Homo sapiens: one gene and its partners. The protein of the gene in region 4 purifies or fractionates together with the protein of the main gene of each other region. This does not show direct contact. Each region holds a gene or a part of one and is shown on either strand. Other genes may lie near its edges.

Region 1 (3,928 bases), on a different chromosome or scaffold from region 4:
TCCCTGGTAAAGAGATAAGAATTTATCTTTGGCTCACAGTTACTGAGGTAAATGGAAGATCTTTTACATCTTTCTGAATAAATGGGCAAAGGCTAAGAGCACTGAAAGAATAAAAATGTAACCTTGTAAAACCTACTAGATCTACCGTGTTCCTCTTGTTAGTTTCTCCTAAGGAGCTTGTGCAGAACGTCTCCCATCGTTCCCTGACTTCGTCGGGAAGATCTTCAGAGTGAGAAAAGCAAAAAAGCATTATCACCACAATGACCTCCACGGAGACAAATAAAGTAAGCAGGTAATATAAAAGTGGGCCTACTCACCTGGTTCATCAATGGTGAGCAGGCCCTATCAGCTGAGAAACTGGGTGACAGCCAGCCCAGTGCTCTTAGAGAAATGGAATTATTAAACCTTCCATAGGCCCAAATCCCATGGACTTTCAGGAACCAGAATCCCCCTACCCAATGGTATAGGCTTGATGAGGCCAAGAGCCCTAAGGTAGCTTGTGAACTTAACAAGTTTCTGAAAATGCTCTGGTAGAAGCTTAACCTGGAAAGTGTGTTTCCAACAAGCTTTTCTGAGAAAGGTGGTAGGTGTTTAACGTGTCGGGGGTAGGGGGATCTTTTTCCATGGTCAAGTTAAGTCTAGAAAATGCTGCAAATGACAGCTCCTGCACACTTTCTTGAAATGCTCTCATTGGCAGCTGGCCAATGAATGTTCCACAGAACCTAGTATGGCTTTTCAAATTGCTCTAAGATCATGTTTCCTAAATATTTGTGTCATGGGCCAACGTGGATACACAGGTAATAGTGAAATTCTACCTTCTAGAGAAATGTTAAAGAAAAGGATAAACAACTGCTTTTCTGAGAAAATCAAACCATGACGTAATTTTAGAGGCCTAACTAGTCATCTGATAATTCTGGTTTAAAACAGCCATGCATGTGTGCACACTCACAGAAGTGTACACATGTACCACCTGGCAAGCAGCTTCCATAAAGGAAAGTCTGATCTAAAAACTCAGTCATATCACATGGCCATTTCTTCTTAGTTAGGACATAAAGATAAACTGTGTGGTGAAATGGCCCAAGGAAGAGGCTTATACCTCTTATGCCTCTCTCAAGAAGCAAAATTAGAAGTGGGCACACACCACTTTTTCCATCCCTGGTGACAACTGTGGTTTTAGTGCACATTCAACAGGGAATAGCCTCTTGAACAAACAAACATTCTTAAGAAAAAATGGAAGACCCACTGGGAAATGATTTTAACTGAACAAATTCTGTACCATGGATGTTAAAGACTGTTCACATTCAGAATAGGTCTCAGGATTGGTAATCCTGTTGGTACAAAAACCCAGAGTACACAGTTCTCTCATTTTAGAAGAAGGCTCATGGCTTGGGGCCAGTGTAAAAAAGCATCCATATAGTTTCTTCCAAATAAGCTTGGGCTGATTAAACTGAAATGCTATACAGAAAGAGTCCTTTAGAAGCCAATACCCCTCATTTTAGTGACAGCGACATCAAAGAAATGCTGATAAATGCCCTAATATTCCAGTTAAAGAAACTTAATTCAGAGGCTATATAGAGGCCTTCAGAAAATAAAAGGCAAAATTATAGCTGAAGTGGCTCAACTGCTAGCATATGAGTACTTCACACTCACAATACTCAAAAGCATGATTCACCAAGCAATGCTCTTTAAGAATGACAATAGGTGACTCTTATATGCTGAATCCAGCCAAGCCTGCCAATGCTTATGGAATGGTCTGTAACTACATGAACATAAATACAACCAAAAAACAACACTGTTCAAACACATTCTCAAGAACCTCATTCAAATACATAATTTGCCAAATATAAAGAAGTCCCACAAATCACTATTAAAAATGCTACATGCATTTCTACTTGACCCTTAAATCCTTCCTGCAACCCAACAAAAATGTAATTCAAATTTCACAAATAACTTACCTTTGATAAGCTGCTGCACTAATGCACTGTTGGGGCCCTTGTCAGTGCTGTGCACGATACAGTTAGCTATCCTCGTTAGGTGTCCCATGTAACCATGCCGTCTTCCTCCCTCAGCCCTGACAAGAGGTAAAGGACAAATACTCAGATTCCTGATAGGATGAAGTGATGAAACACTCGGTAAATACTGCGGACTTTTAAACAATCATTTTAAACCCTGAAGGCACTGAAGAAAATGACGATGGACAGAAAAGAAAAGAAAAACAAAGGAATGGAAGGTGCCAGAATATGACCATGCAGCATGGTCAGGGAGGGGTGTGAAATTGTAAAAGATTATATGGCAGCCTCAGTCAACAGGCCACAGTTTATTCGAATCTCAAAAATCATCACTCACTGTCAATAACACATTATTTTTTAAAAGATCAAATAAACCTTCTCTGATGCCTAATGTTATTGTGATTTTATTTTACATCTTTTTAATGAAACTTTTTCAAACCTTAATCAGATTATAAGGAACTGAGGTAAGAATTCTGCTGGTTCATTTTCTTAAAAGATAGCAAATTTTTATTATATCAATGAATAGAAATAATTATCTACCAATGACATGTCTCAAGTTAAGATATTAGCTGATGTGAGACTTGGCCAAGATAGGAGACAGTCAACTAGTACTTGACCATACACCATTCTGAACACATGCAAACAAACAGTCTTTGTCCTTTTCCCATTTAAGGTCTCATCTTCCCAACCATGATCAATCTTTACACTTAATTCGTATCAGGCCAGGCACAGTGGCTCACGCCTGTAATCCCAACACTTTGGGAGGCCAACACAGGTGGATCACTTGAGGTCAGGAGTTTGAGACCATCCTGGGCAACATGGCAAAACCCCATCTCTACTAAAAATACAAAAATTAGCCAGGCGTGGTGGTGCACACTTGAAATCCTAGCTACTCAGGAGGCTGAGGCAGGAAAATTTCTTGAACCCGGTAGGCAGAGACTGCAGTGAGCCAGGATTGTGCTACTGCACTCCAACCTGGGTGACAAAATAAGACTCCGTCTCAAAAAAAAAAAAATTATATATATATATATATATATATATATATATATATATATAAAATAAGTAAACTCATATTAATCTGATTTCTCTACCTATTTACAAAGTGCCAAGATTTTAAGCTCTATCAAACGAAAGATTTTTGACTGCAGATAGCAGGGAACAAACACTGCAGAGATTTTTGCTTAGAGAGAGAAAAGCCTTTCAGGAGCAATAAGAAAAAAAAAACATCCTATGCTTGAAGGCTTGCTTGGAAAATAAAGTATCTGCTAGAGAATCTTAGAGGGCTTGGGGGTGCCTAAGGGTAAGAAGTACAGGGTTGATTATTTAGGTAGAGACAAGGTCTTGCTTGTCATCCAGGCTGGAGTGCAGTGGTGCAATCACAGCTCATTGCAGCTTCAAACTCCTGGGCTCAGGCAATTCTCTCACTTCGGCCTCTTGAGTAGCTGGGACTATAGGCAAGTACCACCACATCCGGCTAATTTTTTGTAGAGCCAGGATCTCCCTATGTTGTCCAGACTGGTCTCGAACCCCTGGCCTCAACCAATCCTCCCATCTCAGCCTCCCAAAGCAGTGGGATTACAGGCATCTCCCACCGTGCCTGGCCAGAGTCAATCTTCACTGAGTTGCTCAGAGTCTCTTTTAGTTCTTCAGTAAGATCCAGAGAGCCAGGTGTTACCTACAGGCAACTGAGTCACTCTTCTGCACACCCTCAAGTACACAAGTGAAAGAAAACAAAGGCCCATCTCTAAGGTGACCCACAGCTTCAAACTGCTTCAGGCTGTTGTGCAAGGAAACAAGGAAAGTTCTTTCGGGATCCCCCTAGACAGAGGGAATGGTATTCACCAGGCCTCCAGAAAACGGGACTCACCAGGAGAGCAGGGCACAAAGGATATCTGAGCCCTGGCCAGATGAGGAGGCAG
Region 2 (2,831 bases), on a different chromosome or scaffold from region 4:
AGCTCAAGTAGACACAGTCCTTACTAAGTCTCCACGAAGAGCAGTAGCTGGGGAGGGCTTCTGATGCTCTTATTTACAATCCCACAATCACTGCTCTCCTTCAAGTCTAGCAGTCCCACTGTATATTGCAACTTGATCGTACTAAAGACCGACAGCAAAGGATACAGCCAGTCTCGCCTCTGTGAAGTGTTGCAGAGAACCTGGAGAGTGCTAATGAAAAGCTGTTTTACCAAAAAGTTGCCACGGGCAACCTCATATACTTAGGCTTATGTTTAGAAAGAGCAAGGGTGCTACTGGTAGACACTTGAAATTCGAAGTGTTTTTTGTGAATAAAATGTGTTTATGGTAACTTAGGGAAAAGTCGTAGTAGGACAGCAAACGTGGTTCTACATGTACATGAAGTTAGACAAGCTGACTCCCCTCCTAGAAAGCCTACCTTTCAGGCACATATTTGTGCCAAAATCCCAGTGAAGCACAAACAACAGTAATTTATATTAGTATGTGGCACAGTTCACATTTCCAATAGAACTTCATCTTCCCTGAAACAATACTCAGTACAGTCTCAAACCACACAATGAGTCTCATCTTAAGCTCTCCGGTCCTTCTACCTGTGAGTGGTCATCTTCTGGGTGTGGGACCCCTTTCTGGAAGGCCTCGGTCTGGTCGGTGTGCTGAGGGCTGGGAGCCCCTGGGTGTCCCTCAGTGCTGCTGGCCTCGAGGGTGATCTGCTCCGGCCCACTGGATAGGCGCTCCACCTTTTCTAAGTCTTCAATGTGACTGACTGAGCTGGTCTCACTCAAAGCATCTGAACCTCGCAGGGACCTTTTAAAAGGCTTCTGGCCTACAGAAAGGGCAGACAGACTGCGCTGAAACTCAGTGAGGATACTTCTGCAACACAGGCTGTCTCTGCAACAGATAATTGCTTTATTTCACAACACAGCTTCAGCAGAAACCTTTACTGGCTCTGAGGTGTTTTAGGAGATGAGAAAACCGAGAGCTGCTAGCTTGACACCAACATGCTCCCCAGGCCGGGGAACTCTAAGGTCATCTTCATTAGGAAACGCCCAGGAGGGTAAACACCACAGTGACAATGTCATCTTTCAAGACCCCAACTTCCCCTTAGCGCACTACCGTGGGATTTCTTCAAGGCTGAATCCCACGGCTACCAAGATGGTTAAAGAGATGGTAGTAGTTGGTCTTAAGAGAAATAGACCTCTGGAGTTCAAGAACCCAGAAAACAAACGCAAGTAACAGTCAACAGGGGAAACCTGTTACCTGAACTCGGTGCAGAGGCGTCACTTACCTGGAAGCCTCTGCTTGGTGCGACTGCCCGAGGGCGTTGGAGGCAGCGTGACTCCTGCACCTTGTGCTTTGTAGACATATATGGGTTCTGTGGACTCCAGAGAGCCTGCGGGAGAGGAGAGGGCTGGGTAGAAGCTACAGGCACAGGCTGCCCTTGAAGACACCACCTGCCCTCACACAGCCTTGCTCCCCAATAACCTCCTTCCAGCCACTGAGCCTGCCACAGACTGGTGGAGAGAAGGGCACTTATGAATGTGCCGTGAGCTAGAGAAAGCCACCTCACAGGGCCAGTACCGCCAGCATCCGCCAGCAGTATGGCGTAAGCACACCCAGGGAGCCAGGCCCAACAGGGAAACGTACTGTAGCCACAAGAAGTGGGTGCCTTTTTGCTGAAGGCTAAGGCTTGGCAGATTAGAAATCAGATTATCTTTTGCTTTCATGACAATGGAGTCATCGTTTCCTGGGAAAGAATGAAGGAAGGGGCTCGAGTGTAGGAAATTATTTCCTTGGTAGAACAGGAAAGGAGTCACGGACTGTTAACACCCTCCCCACATTCCAGCGGCTGAAACGCTTGCTGGCTGCCTGGTTCAAAATAAACCGTGCCAGCACTCCATGCTTCAGTCTCTGCATTGCCACTTGCAAAAGCTGTCCTCTGCTGGGGCAGAACACACATGAAGACAAGAAGTATTAACCCTGAACCAAAATGCCCAAGACACAGCACCCTGAGAGTCTGCACGGCTGAGTGGGCGTGTCCTCATGGCCTTGCGGTGGTGACAGCTGTGGAGAGTGGGTAGCTGCTTCCTTGCTGTTTCAGCCGCCAGGGTGCGGTGGGGAGGAGGACAGGGCACACCAGAACTTGTCTCCTCAGATGTCCGGCCCACACCCAGTGATGAAGAACGGGAACCAGGGCGGGATTCTCAGTGGGAAGTGTTGGGACCCAAGGGCATTTGGTGAAACCTCCCAAGGTCAGCAAGACCTGGGAAGAGGCTATGCCGTCCTACCTGCTGTCAAGTTAAAAGTTCTTCCCTTCTGTAAAGCCTGGACCGGAGAAAACCAATTCAGCACGGAGCCCACTACAGGGATCTGCCGCAACACCCCCTGCAAGACAGGACCAGAGTTCAGGGCCACCTGGCCTCACGGCGGCTCCCCCAGCCTGCTGCCCATCGGGGGCCTCACCTCTTCCAGAAGCCGTTCTTCACTTGCCTTCTGCAGCTCCACTTGAGCTTCCTGAATGCCTTTCCGAACCACTTCTGTCATGTTTTCCAGAAGCTGTGGCAAGACCAAGAAAGACATTACTTGTTTAAGGTTCTCACCTGGGGCCCAGAAGAGCTAGTAACACAGCACTGAGGGAATTTTTCAAAAGCAGGTCAATGAAATCCTGCATTGAAAAGCCGGCGTAAAACGAACAGAAACTCAAAGACAAGCAGATAACATGCTCATAGAGGCCTAGGCAGACACACCTTGGTGACCAGCCTCATTTGCTACGTATTCTTGAAAACAGAGAAGTCATAAAGTCAGGCTGGAAAGAA
Region 3 (3,928 bases), on a different chromosome or scaffold from region 4:
ACCAGACTTCTGAGGAAAGCTTCTAATAAGAAATATACTGAACAAAACCAGCAAACAGAAAAAAGCAACTTGGAAGAAACAAAGACTATGTAAAGATGATAAAAAACAAAAAAACTATCATGAATATATCCTCAGAGAAGTAACAGAGGATATTTCACTCACAAAATAAAACAGGATGCTATGAAAAAGGAACACACTCAGGTGAGGAAAAGAGTTCTTTCACTTATTCTCATAACAATTTATTAAATTTTTAATTTTTCATTTAAATATTTTAATAAAGTTCAAATATAAAAACTTTGAATTTATTAAAATTAAATATCAAACCTCTAAAAAAAATTTTAAATAATTGGGTCTAATATTAATGGAGAAAGGGGCTGGGCATAGTGACTAACGCCTGTAATCTCAACACTTCGGGAGGCTAAAGCGGGCACATTACTTCAGTCCAGTAGTTTAAGACCAGCCTGGGCAACATAGTGAGACTCTGTCTCCAAAAAAATAAAAAAAACTATCTGGGTGTGGTGGTGCATGCCTGTAGTCCCAGCTACGTGGGAAGCTGAGGTGATACAAACACTTGAGCCCAGGAGGTTGAGGCTGCAGCGAGCTATGATCACACCACTGCACTACAGCCTGGGTGACACAGCAAGACCCCATCTCAAAAAAAATATAAAAGTGATAATATTAATGAAAAGGGATGAAAAGATCACATTCTGAGACTTTTAAATTTTTCTTTGTACAAAGATAATGTACAACTGCAAGTGTGCACACACAAATGCCAACATATAGCACTTGCCTATTTTCTTCCAGGATTTCAATTAAACTCTTCTGCAGAAAATGAAGCACTGAAACAAAAAGAATATGACAAATAAGAATTTAAAACTGTGAAGCTCAATTTCAATAAAATAAAATATTTTATATCACTGTTATCCAAAATGATATCATGATATGGAAACAAAAATTTAAAAGGAAGGGTCATGATGTACCTAAGTTATCTACAATGCTCTACCTATTACCAAGAAACTTAAAAGAGCCAGTTCCAAAATGACTCATACAAGCCATCAACTCATGGAACAAAATAAAATAATAGGACTTACCATTTTTAAGCAGATTATTAACACTTGCTCTACCTGTAGAGGAAAAAATGAACACTGGTAAGGAGTTTCACGACCAAAATCAATGTCATTTAAAAACTATGATGTGATGAGAGGGGTTAGCCAGAAAAAGGACTAGAAAAGTGCAGCCTTACCCAAGTTAAAGTTCTCCATACAGGAAGAAATATTGTCAGTAACTTTCCTGTAAGAGTATAAGTCAGTAGTATTCAATTCTTCCTGAAGACGAGAAGTAAAACGGTGCATAGCCTCAGGTAGAAAAAAATCAGGCAGGCTATTTAGTGAGCTAGAAAAAGAAACAAATATTAAAAATCTGACAATCTAATAGCCCCAGAATATGTGGAGAGGGAAGAGAATCATACAAATGTGGGAATACTGAACTAAATCTTCAAAATACAGCCAGAAAACTACAACTACACACTACCATCACTCGAATTTCCTGGCTTGTCAGCACATCTGGTCTCCCTGCTTCCACCTTGCTTCTCTCCCATCTCCCAGATTATTCTCAACAGAACAGGCAGAGTGACACCGTTAAAACACCATGTCACTTCTCTTACTAAAACCTCCAACAATATCCTTCTCGGTTAAAGTACTAGTTGAAGTGTTTACAGTGACCTACAAGGTCCTCCCGATACAATCTGGCACTACCATTAGCTCCTGACCTCATCTTTATTTATTTTTTTTCTTTTCTTGATTTTTAAAATGGCATCTATCACAATCCTGACCTCATCTTGATCTTTGTTCACTTAGCTCTAGCTACATGGCCTTGCTCTGTTCTGACATACCAGTCTTTGCTTCTGCTGTTTCCTCCATCCAAAATACTCTTCCTTCAAATATACCCAGCAATCACTGCCTCATCCCTTTCAGGTCAATCTCAATTACCTTATCATGTCTGAGCAAAGCTATATGAAGTGACCATAATATTTTAAATTGTAACCCTCACCCCATCCTTTATGTCCCCTTTCCTTCCTTCCCGCTTTTAGATAGCACTCATGCCATCTAATATCCTATAAATGTTACTTATTTATTTTGTCTATTTTCTATCTTCCCCTTAGAATGTAACCTCCATTCTGGACTGTTTCATTCATTCTACCCCCAGTTCCTAGAAGAGTGCTGAAACACAGTAGGCAGTCAATAAAAATTTATCAAATGAGTAAATTAAACATATCAATTTTGCCTCAATTTATATACATCAAAACTGATTGGCTTTGTTTTAAATATAACTGGACAGTTCAAAGTTTTTCTGGAAGAAAATAATTCAAAAATGGGAATATTCAGAATAAGAAGAGTCACTAGAGGGATGACTTAACACTGACATATAATTAAAACACTTTATCAAACTATAGTAAATAAAAGTGTGGTGTTGGTGTATGAATAATTGGACCTAACTCAGAAATCAAACCCATGTATATATGTGAACATATAACACAATAAGGTGGCATTCCAAATATGTGGGCAAAGATGGACGATTCAACAGTTTGGGTAAGTGGTTCCCCATATAAAAAAGAAAACTAAATTGAATCCCTACCTCACACTACATTCAAAGCTTAATTCCAGATGGACATAAAAGTTGAGCAAAAAAAAAAAAAATAGTATAAGGCCTGCAAATAATGTTTTAAATAATCTTGTATTACAGAAAGCACATATAGCAAGGTATAAAACTCAGAAATCTACATACACAAAAATTAGCTGAATTGATAACCAAAATAATATTTTAATTTTTGTAAAGACAAGACACCATGAGAAAGTTAAAGACAAGTAACAAAGGAATGTATTTGGCATATGATCTATAGAGAAGTCTTATAAATCAAGAAAACATTCTAACAAGAAAATGTACAAAGAATATGTAATAAAAAAAGTCAAATTCCACACATTAAAAAATGTTCAATTACACTAGTAATCTGGGATACACAAATTATAATGATAGCATTTTCCTTCATTAGATTTTAAAAGATTTAAAGATTGATAGTATCCAATGTTGGAAATATATGAAGAAGAAACAAGCATTCTAATTCAATGGGTAGTCTGGGGGAGTACAATTTAACAATATCTACCAAGAATTTCAATAGGCCTAATTTTTGGTCCAGAAATTCCACTTCTTGGAATTTATCTCAGAGAAATACACATATATAATTATATACATAAGAATATCACTGCAATGGGGAAGTGATTAAATTACTTTATACCATGTAATATAAATCATGTAATATGTACCATATATAGATACATACATGTCATATATATGGTACATTTAAATTTTGGTATATTCATATTACAGAATATTTATAGCTGAAAAAGTAAGGACTGCTGGTGGGAATGTAAAATGTTGCATATGGAAAACAGTATGACAGTTGCTCAAAAAATTACAAATAGTATTACCATATGGTCCAGCAATCCCACTTCTGGGTATATATCCAAAGAACTGAAAGCAGGATCTCAAATAGATATTTGCACACCCATGTTCATAGCAGCATTATTCACAACAGGCAAGCAGTGGAAGCAACCCAAATGTCCATTGAAAGATGCATGGATGAAAAAAATGCAGTATATGCATACAACAGAATATTAAGCCTTATAAGAGAAGAAAATCCTGTCATATGCTATAACAGGGATGAACCTTAAGGACATTATGTTAAGTGAAATAAGTCAGTCACAAAAATATAAATACAAATATTACACTAATATGAGGTATCTAAAGTAATCAAATTTATGAACGGAAAGTGGCTGCCAAGGGCTGAGCAGGAAATGGAGAGTTGTTACTTAATGTATACAGTTTCAGAGCTTAGCAGATGACAAGGTTCTAGAGATCATTGCACTGCAAT
Region 4 (3,735 bases):
TGAAATTATACATTTAATAAATATTAATTGAGCACCTACTATGCTTCAGTTGGCGAAAGACAAAATCAGCAAATTCAGGCAGAAAAGTGAGTCCAGTAAATCAATTACAGCAGTGTTCAATGAGTTCTACAAAAAAGATGTGCTCCAGATGATGAATGCGTTCAGGTGTCAGGTCTTAAAGCAACTTGGGGAAGGCTTCTGGAAGAGGTTACTTTTGAACTTAAATGTTGGGTAGAAGTTAACTGTGTGTGGAATAAGGAGATGGGAGTTGGGGAGGAAAATATAATTAATTCCTGTAAGAGTATTCAGTGTGTAAAAAGAAATAATGGCATCATATTTTGTTGCTATTGAACCACTGAGAACACATTTAATATGGCTGCCGAGAATGTGGAAAGCTGGAGAAAGAAAGGTGACAGGTGATGGAAAGCCCTATGTGTTACATGGAGGAGTTTGAATTTTATCCATCCACAAAATAAAATATATATATATATATATATATAAATGTGAAACCATTGAAAATTTTGACCTCATTTGAGTTTCAGGAAGAACATTCTGGGGAAACAGTTGAGAGTGTAAAGAGATAAAAGACAAAATTCTTGTTAAAGGCCTGAAATGAAAAGATTTTGAACTTGTACAGGTGGAAATAGAAGAGGAGCTAGATATTTCAGACCAGAGGACAGATGGATGTAGACCATGAGAAAGAAAAGAAGAGTGTTTCCAGGAGACTGGGTCTGCCAACACTTCCAGTTTTTAGTACAGGAAACTGGTGTAAAGTGGGATGCTCCAACAAATTTGGGGAATCAGTAATAGATAAATTCAATCAATCATTAAAACTAAGGCCTTCAATTTAAATGAATATACACTGCTTAAAAAGAAAGCAAAACATGACGACATTTATTATGTAAACTATCAAATGTTTATTTAAATTTCCATTTAAAATATTTTCAAGTAAAATATGTACAAAAATGGTTATAAAATGGTTGAAGCAACTAGAAGCGTGACAGGTATAATACATATAAATACAACCAAAATTCAATTCAATGCAAAGTTGAATGACATCATATTGCACCAAAATTTATTCCATACAAAAGCACATGCATCAAGAGTTTCCATAAGATGAAAACAAACACACTTACTTCATAGCATCTTACCACTTACTTACACAAATAGCCCATAAACACCATCTGGCATTGTGATTGCAGTACCAGAACTCTCCCCAGAGGGAACTCATTTAGCTATAGAAGAATCCATTTTATTTCACATATCACATGCTTGTGCAGGCATCAGTGCTAGGAACCCTAAGAAACAACGCAATCCACAGATGAAAGTCTCTCTGCACCATTTATATCTTCATAGATAAATATCTTAGTTCTAATATGATTGGAATGTGGATGCAGAAATAAAATGCAGTTTTGCTCTTTAAGAATTTTATCAATGTAAGACATTGTATTAAATTTGTATAAAATACACACAATCCCCTCTACTAAGTTTCATGATCACAGTGCCAGAGTGAAGAAACTCTGCTTGAGTTGAGGACCAGTTAGTTAGGATATTGAGGATCACTCTTTTTCAGCTGGATCTCTCTGTTCTTGTGTTTTCAATCACTAGACCAAACCCACGATGCCCCTGAAATTCTGGGAATGGTACAAGGTCATAACTAATGCATTCCAGATCCAAGTTAGGGATTTAGCTGGTCTATAAATTACAGTTTAAGCACAGATCAAAGAGATGGCTGCCAGCATATCCTTCAAGGGTAACCTGAGTTCCAAGACTTTCCCACTGGGCTAAATGGACTCCACTTGTTGCAAATTATAAATGCTTGTCACAGAATATGAAAAATATTTAAATACATTCATAGATAGTACCTAATAATATGTTAACATAAACATAACAACACACATATTATTTTTCTACCCCTTGGCAACTGAAAATGAAGTTACCATTCCTAGGCCAAATTTTTAGACAAAGCTTTCTAAAACCATCTTTATAAAGTAAATTCAGATATGCTTACAATAAAAAGACATAAAAGATTCATCCTGAGATGAATTCTGAGTCAATAACTAAAAACCATTTCTACCAGTGCATCACTACCATGTAATCCATTCTACGCAAGCTCTACAAATATTGAGTCAAATCCTGTCTGTCAGAAAATGAAGACCCAATAAGTTTGCCGAAGTATTCAGTACAAGAGGCCATTTGTCTTGCCTTTTTCTGACATGTGCATACTATAAAATCACAGGTAGCCAACATTTAGTATCAGTAAAAAACAACTACGTTTGTTCACCTGTTTGGCATAGGGAGAAAACAATGTATCTCATAGCATTAAATGATACAGCCTTAACACATATGATGCTCATATTTGCAAAGTTCCCAAATGTTGAGAAGTTCTAGTGAAAAGTCATACTATTGTGCAAAGATGAAAATTTGGAGCCAATGTCTGTATTCAAAATAACCAAAATATATTTTAAAGCAAAATATATCCTGATACTACTATAGATTCTAGGAATTGTCCTAAAAGAGTAAAGTGTTGTTTCCTTTCTGAACATGAATAACATCAAAGGAAGAACCCAGTTCTTAAGACTTAAGTAGGAAATTTATAGAAATTTGATTTATACCAGTAGTAATAACATTCATAAGGAAAAACTATTAGGTAACAATTTTCTCCAAGAAGAGGATCAGATTACTTAAAATTGTTGGAGAATTCTGGTTGTTTGTGCAATAATCATAGTGATTTACATTGCTTTTCTTCTTTCAGAGCAATAAGAAAGTTATTTGGGGTAGTACTTGAAATAATTCATATACACAGTCATTTAACATAGATCGTTTCTAGTCGAGTATGAGCATACATTCATGGGAACAATCTGTTTCATTCTTCAAAGTATGTTTGTACTTTGGAATGAAGGAGAAATTCTAGGGAAAAATTAATTCAGAAATCTTTTGAAATAAGACAGTTCAAACCTAGGACCAGGTAACCACATTGCATTGCCTCCCAGTGTGATATGACTGTGCTTCCAAGTATGCATCTAATAAAGTTAGTTAGTAGGAAAATTTGATGTCTAAATTTTATAATACACATTTAAGTCAGACCACTCACAACCCAACAAATTATACAGCTTTAACATGCAAAGGCCTAATAGGTTTTCCCACAAGATGCTGTAATAATACCCTGTCACACAAGGTACTCAAAATACAGTCACCACTGCAAAAGAGATACCTGTGCATTACTCTTTTTTTCCCCTCTGGCTTTCAGCACGGCCTTCTGAGGCTTTAACAAGAGGTAATAAGGACTTAGCAAGCAGTTCTCCTAACCAATACATTAATTCACTTGAAAGTCATACTTTTAAAAAAAATCAGTAGTGTATATGTTGAGGAAAAAAAGCATGTTCACTCTGGAACAAAGTTGGCCCTCTATGGCTCTCAGATGCCTAATGCTCTACAGTTTTGTGAGAGAATTGTTAACTGTAAAGCTGTAAAGGCGGTTATTGGTACTATAAATGTACACTTGATTCAAGTACGCTGAAACACACACATGTAACAGCTATTAGGACACTGTAACCGTCCTCTGTGTATTTTAAGGCCAATAGTAACAGAGAGGAGGGAAAAAAATAACTACCAAGAAAATAAAACTAATGGGTAGATTCACACTAAGAAAATCTAGGTAATTATATAAATTCATTGTTATGAGGTTGTAGAAAGGACAGTTATCTCACGACATATGGAAAATTGGTGAATTTC

What was found. Proteins that work in one complex are often made in the same cells at the same time.
Region 1: the proteins of SLC7A11 (region 4) and PPP6R3 purify together in Homo sapiens (affinity purification with mass spectrometry; one large-scale study listed by BioGRID and IntAct). This does not show direct contact.
Region 2: the proteins of SLC7A11 (region 4) and PDXDC1 purify together in Homo sapiens (affinity purification with mass spectrometry; one large-scale study listed by BioGRID and IntAct). This does not show direct contact.
Region 3: the proteins of SLC7A11 (region 4) and THADA purify together in Homo sapiens (affinity purification with mass spectrometry; one large-scale study listed by BioGRID and IntAct). This does not show direct contact.

Annotation. Positions count from the first base shown.
Region 1 is NC_000011.10:68,572,252-68,576,179, reverse strand, and holds part of PPP6R3 (serine/threonine-protein phosphatase 6 regulatory subunit 3), read right to left. Parts: intron 2,072-3,928; coding exon 1,956-2,071; intron 223-1,955; coding exon 137-222; intron 1-136.
Region 2 is NC_000016.10:15,034,026-15,036,856, reverse strand, and holds part of PDXDC1 (pyridoxal-dependent decarboxylase domain-containing protein 1), read right to left. Parts: intron 2,572-2,831; coding exon 2,479-2,571; intron 2,401-2,478; coding exon 2,304-2,400; intron 1,409-2,303; coding exon 1,304-1,408; intron 907-1,303; coding exon of another isoform or gene 842-906; coding exon 582-841; 3' UTR 1-581.
Region 3 is NC_000002.12:43,585,611-43,589,538, forward strand, and holds part of THADA (tRNA (32-2'-O)-methyltransferase regulator THADA), read right to left. Parts: intron 1,393-3,928; coding exon 1,244-1,392; intron 1,125-1,243; coding exon 1,092-1,124; intron 840-1,091; coding exon 791-839; intron 1-790. UniProt on the Homo sapiens protein: Together with methyltransferase FTSJ1, methylates the 2'-O-ribose of nucleotides at position 32 of the anticodon loop of substrate tRNAs.
Region 4 is NC_000004.12:138,163,200-138,166,934, forward strand, and holds the end of SLC7A11 (cystine/glutamate transporter), read right to left. Parts: 3' UTR 898-3,735; downstream 1-897. UniProt on the Homo sapiens protein: Heterodimer with SLC3A2, that functions as an antiporter by mediating the exchange of extracellular anionic L-cystine and intracellular L-glutamate across the cellular plasma membrane.